Regions from separate parts of the Homo sapiens genome. Here region 1 is linked to region 2. Evidence: fine-mapped expression QTL. A gene starts in region 2. The other region holds a variant in brackets. All regions are shown on one strand. Distances are from middle to middle. Region 1 overlaps PHC2 (polyhomeotic homolog 2). Region 2 holds the start of A3GALT2 (alpha 1,3-galactosyltransferase 2).

What was found.
Region 1: its variant is fine-mapped to the expression of A3GALT2 in whole blood (INTERVAL, PIP 0.96).

Annotation. Positions count from the first base shown.
Region 1 is chr1:33,382,542-33,385,448 of GRCh38, reverse strand. The region is part of intron 1 of PHC2 (polyhomeotic homolog 2); the gene reads left to right. Among named protein-coding and RNA genes, the nearest start is that of PHC2-AS1, 34 kb to the right of the region's middle. The variant G/A (reference allele first, on the strand shown) is at 1,501.
Region 2 is chr1:33,319,506-33,322,412 of GRCh38, reverse strand. It overlaps A3GALT2 (alpha 1,3-galactosyltransferase 2), which reads left to right and starts at 1,315. Exons shown (of 5, transcript NM_001080438.1): 1 at 1,315-1,337. The coding sequence starts at 1,315.

The DNA of each region.
Region 1 (2,907 bases), 63 kb before region 2:
TGGCCAGGGTTGCATTCCTGTATGTAAACCCTGCCCTGGCAATGTTTGCTCATTTTTATGGAGTAGAACGTCTCTCCCCTTTTCTAAACTCTCTCTCATGATACTTTGCCTTTGTGTGATTTTTGTTTCCGAAATGCTTTCTCCTATTTATGTTGTTTCATTTTCCGGAAGCTCTGGGAGGTCGGGGTAAGGTATTATGATCTCCACATAATGCTGCTGCCTAGCTCCCACCTAGTCAATGTGTGACTGGGTCTAGTCCCAGCCTTTTGGCCAGGACCTTCTACATCTGCTTTTTGCAGTGACCACAGTCCCACACCCATCACTTCAACACCACTCATCTTTCATTTCCCCTCTCCATTCCCAAATCAAAATTTACATGTCCTAGGCCCTGTTGAGAGTAGCCATCTGGACCCACAAATTTGAGTAAAGGTGCTAATGGCTACTAATAGTTTCAAAGGTCCCTTCTCAGATAACATGGTATTTGCACAGTGTGTTTCGGTATTTTAACCTTGGGTTCCTCATCAGGAGGTGAAGAGCTTCCCAAAGAGCTTCAAGCTTTATTCATTCCTCATTTAACAAAATCTTACTGTTGCTGGCTCGGCACCATGTTAGGCATTAGGAATCTAAAAATAATGGAATCACTACCTAGTAAATAAAATCAGCTGTCCTGCTATGCTATTAAAGTTCAGAAGAAGGCACCAAATCTAGGCTGGGGTACAAAAAGGAAGTCCCTAAGAGGAACAGACGTTATAGCTGAACTGCAAAGGGTGAATGCGCTCCGGCCAGGGAGATGGAGAGTGAGGGGCCTGGGGAGTGGCCCAGGCAGAGGGAAAGGTCTGGGCAAGGGGTGAGACAGCATATGACTAATTCTGGAATCAGCTGTGTGGGAGCACGTGGTAGGCAATGAAGCTGGAGAGAAACAGGAAGATCCCTAAACAGAGTGCTGCCAACATTTTCTTTCCACGTGGAGGTATTTTGAGGTTTCAGCAGGGAAGAAACTATGTTTGGTAACTCTTCCCATCTCAAATTCTAGCCCCTTTTTGCAGGGACTTCATTATGACCATCTTATGGCATCAATGATGACTGCCCCTTTTAAATCTCATATTCAAATGGATAGTGGGGCCCCTTAGAGCAGTGGCTCTCATGCTTCATCAGCATCAGAATCTCCCAGAAGGCTGTGAGAACACAGGCTGCTGAGCCCTGCTCCCAGAATTTCTGATTCCGTAGGTCTGAAGTGGTGCCTGAAAATTTGCATTTTTGGAGAGTTGCCAAGGGACCACATTTTTGAGAAGCCTTGCCTTGGAGCATACAAAGCCATGATATTAACGAGGCTGTTTTTAATGCCTTTGCACCCTTTTTTACCATTAGTTTCAGTTGACCTTTTTAGGCTGGTCAGGTTGAGTATTAGGCAGCATAATAGTTCCCTAAGGCCGCCTTAACAAATTACCACAAACTGGGTGGCTTAAAACAACACAAATGTATCATGTTACCGTTCTGGAG[G/A]CTGGAAGTATGAAATCCAGGTGTCGGCAGGGCCATGCTCCCCCTGAGTCCTTCCTCGCCTCTTCCTAGCTTCTGGTGGCTGCAGGTGTTCTTTGGCTGGTGGCAGCATAGCTCCAATCTCTGCCTCCATCTTCACGTGGCTGGCTTCTCCCCGTGTGTGCCTGTTTTCACATGGCGTTCTTTTATAAGGACACTGCTTATATTTGATTAGGGGCCCATAGAAGACACAGAATATATTTTGCTCTGCCTTACAGCAGTGAGTCCAGGGCTGCCCAAGTCTAGACAAACTCATCCATCCCGTCCCCAAGCATTCAGCATCTGCACAGTGTGGCTTTCACTGTACATCCCTTCCAAAAGACAGCAAATCCTTCTTTTTCCTCCTCATATTCTTCAACCAACCAGCACCACCTTGTTATAGAAATACTTGATATAACCTGCCTTTTATAAATTAGGAAGAAAACAGTAAGGTTTCAGAAAGTTTACTCATTTAAATTTATAGTGTTTTGCATCACAATGAAATCATTCTGTTTGGATTGCTAGGACTATATGACCAGCTTTAATTCCTCATCCTTCACTTCTATTTTTGTTGGCCTTCATTTACTTACTTTGGTTTCTAGAGACACTAAAGGTGGCAACATGCAGAGGACAGGGGAGAGGGAGGGACCTTTTGAGATGGTTTGAGCTGCATCCATTTGGACTGCTCCCAGTGAGTCAGTGGCTTCAGACTGGAACAAATCAGGACACTTATGTTCATGCAGCAGCCGAGAGGTGTAAGGAGGCCTCCCCCAGGTCCCCTAAGTCTAGGGAGTCTGAATCTTCTGTTATTACTGCCTTATGCCTCTGGCGGAGGGGCATCCAGAAAGGAGAAGCAGAGCCACAGCAAAGGAATATGTTCACCCATCTCTTCAGACTCTCCATACCAAGCCGCCTCATGATAATACCAGCAGCCACGATGGGGCTGACGAGACTTCTCATTTCCTGCCCAGCTCTGATTCCATTAGGAAAAACCTCACCCTGCCTTACCCCAGGGCTTTAGGCTAGATTTGGAGAGAGGTTTTCAGTATCCTTCCCCTCTGCTTTCCCGGAACCTCTGTCACAGCTGTAATCCACAGCAAATGGATTTCCCTGACACTGGGGACAAAGGCCTAGTGTTTCGTAGACTTGGCGGCTCCTGGGAGGGCAGAACCATCAGCGTTTCTCCAGCTGCTGGTCTCAGGCCCTGTGGGCAGCAGAGACCTGTAATAAGATCACTATCCAAGCCAGTTATATTCAGCACATCATTCAAAGTGGCCCATTGCAGTTAGGAGGGGAGAAGTGACTTAAATAGGAATCATAGCCCTTCAGAGCCCGGGCTCATACAAAACCACACAGTGAGTAGGAACCCAGAGAAAAACAGACTTCTAGTTC
Region 2 (2,907 bases):
TTAAAATGGAACTGTCTTGGAGGAGAAACACACTGATTAGTTGATCCCCAGGGGGTAGAACTAGGGACTGGAAAGCCTGTCCCAGGAGGCAGGGAATGGCTGGCAGGACCCTGAGCTGACGGGAGGAGGAGGATGCTGAGATTGGGGAGTGAGCCCTGGGGAGCCCCCAGGCAAGAACGAACGCCCCATGTGCTGCCGCCTCTCCTGCTGCTGGAGTGCAGGCCACGTGCGCAGGTGCACCACTGGCCTATAGGACTCTGGGCAGTTCTTTTCACTTTCTGGACCTTAATTTTCCCTTTATGGAAGAAAATGAAAACCAGGCCCCACCTGAGTTTGTTGTGTGTAGCAAAGAGGGAGGGAACCAAACCTACTCCTAAAAGAAGATGTGGTGAATTTGATTCACACCAATAAGTATCCATCTTCTTTAGATGAAAAGCTCCAACCTGCTGCAAGTTTGCAGGGTGCACCTGCAATAGGCATTTGCTATTCCTGTTGTTTACACTTCACACTGAATTTCACAGACCTATTTCCATCATGATCCACAATTTAAAGAAATATTTCCCAAACTTGTATACACATTTCAATATCTATCAACTGAAACAAACATTTCATGAAACAAAACCTACCCTTACGTACAATATAGAATATTTTCCATTGTATTCCTGTTCGTATTTTAAAAATCTTGGTCACGACCCACTAAACTCATTACACGGCCTTCAGATAGGTCACAACTGGAACTTTAAAAAGCACTGCCCAGAGTAAATCACAACGGTTCAACATCCACGAATTTACATGGTTCTCTCTCCTGGGTGACTGGTGTATGTACTGGTGTACATTCTACTGAGAAGGTAAAGGGCTCCACTAGGTGAACTGTCCAAGGTCACAGGTGCCGAGTGCCCTTCAGATCTGGCTGAGGCTCTGTGCAGAACGGCTTTTCCTGCGTGGCAAACACCATACCTTGATTGCCAGCTGTTCCCAAGAACCAAAGACACTTCCCCTGGGGAGGGAAGAGGAGTCTGTACAAAATGACAGAGCCTCCAGCCAACCAGAACTGGCCTACTCAGACCCACCCTCTTCCAGGTGATTGGCCCCAAAAGGGTTGCCAGCCCCACTCCACCTTGGGGCCAGCTTCCCCCAAAAGGTTGCATCCCCGGCAGGTCCCTCGCAGGCAGTCCATCCTGACTGCTCCTGTGGGTGCAGCTCCTCAGGTAAAGGGGGAGGAGCTGCTTGTTCCAGATCTCCAGGAGCAGGCCATTTCTTCCCCAGCTCTAAGCTGGGAAAGTTTGCTCCAGGCCATCCTACCTGCTTCCCCATATGGCTCTCAAGGAGGGACTCAGGTGAGGGGGGACAATGGTATGGAGAGGAAGAAAGCTTGGGGACAGCTGAGCTAAGAGGGATCCAGTCTGATGGCTAAAACAGTACCAAGGGGAGGCACCAGAGTGAGCCCAGGAGTACCAGCTGAGCCTCCAGTCCTGGGGAAAGGTGGCTCCGAGAGGGGACATTGCCCCAGGAGAAGAAAGACAATCCGTGTGCATGGACACCGGGGTGGGGGAGGTTGTATTCCACAAGATTTTGTAGCCAATGAAAAGCTGGACTCCCCTTGCTTCCCTTAACTCTAAACCCCCTTGGCGAGCCGGAAAGCAGAGACCCGGGGGTACATTCCCTCCCCGACTGTAACTGAGAGCTCCCTCTATCCCCACTGGGACTGATGGTCCAGGACTAGGAACCTGTGCCCCCTTAAGACCTAATGGCTGATCTTTAACCCTTTCTTGAAGCCAACGAGAGTGGGGAGCAGGGCACAGGGTGGAGCTTGAGGGACCACCTTCTGCAGGTAGAACCTGAACAAGAAATGTGGAGGAGTGGACTGATCAGGGGCCTCCACAGACCACGGGCTCCCAGGCTGGGGCATAGGAGGGGCAGGAGGAGCTGGTGGGTCCCACCCAGTCCTGGGTCTCAGCACCCTCCCAGGCCTGACCACAGGAGTTCACAAGACCAACTCTGCCTGTGTGCCCTGGCTGAGGCCCAGAGCCCAGAATAAGCATCGGTTTGCCCTACCCTGGTTGGGAGGAGGCTGGTGAAGAGGGTGGGACAGCCACAGAGGGGGAGAAAGCCCCTCCAGCCTTTTCCTGCTCCTGTAGTACCTTACGCAGTACCTCGCACACCTCCCACAGTGCACCTCCCGAGGCAGCCTTGCCAGCTCCCAGTACGGGGTTTGACCAGGCTTCTAGGAACCAGAGAAGCCCAGCTGCAGCCAGCCCTCCAGGAGCTCAGACAGGAGCTGAATAGAGTGCGAAGGGAAGAAGCCAAGCCCACGGGGAGAAATAACAGGGCCGAGAACCTTGTGAGATGAGCCTCAGGGCTGAGCTAGGCCCAGGTCAAATGGAACCCAAATGCCATGCTGGAAGCTCTGGCTGGGGGATCGGGCAGTCCTACTCAAAGCCCAACCCCACCCATTACCCGCCGTGCAAATGCCTTGGTGTAAAGTGTAAACAGGAATGGCAAATGCCTACTGAAGGTGCACCCTGAAAACCTGCAGTAGGTTGGGGCTTTTCACCTAAAGAACACGGATACTTATTGGAGGAGAAACAAGCTGATTAGTTGATCCCCAGGGGGTAGAACTAGGGACTGGAAAGCCTGGTGCCCCAGGAGGCAGGGAATGACTGGCAGGACCCTGAGCTGACAGGGGAGGAGAGGATGCTGAGATTGGGGAGTGAGCCGTGGGGAGCCCCCAGGCAAGAACGAACGCCCCATGTGCTGCCTCCTCTCCTGCTGCTGGAGTGCAGGCCACGTGCGCAGGTGCACCACTGGCCTATAGGACTCTGGGCAGTTCTTTTCACTTTCTGGACCTTAATTTTCCCTTTATGGAAGAAAATGAAAACCAGGCCCCACCTGAGTTTGTTATATGTG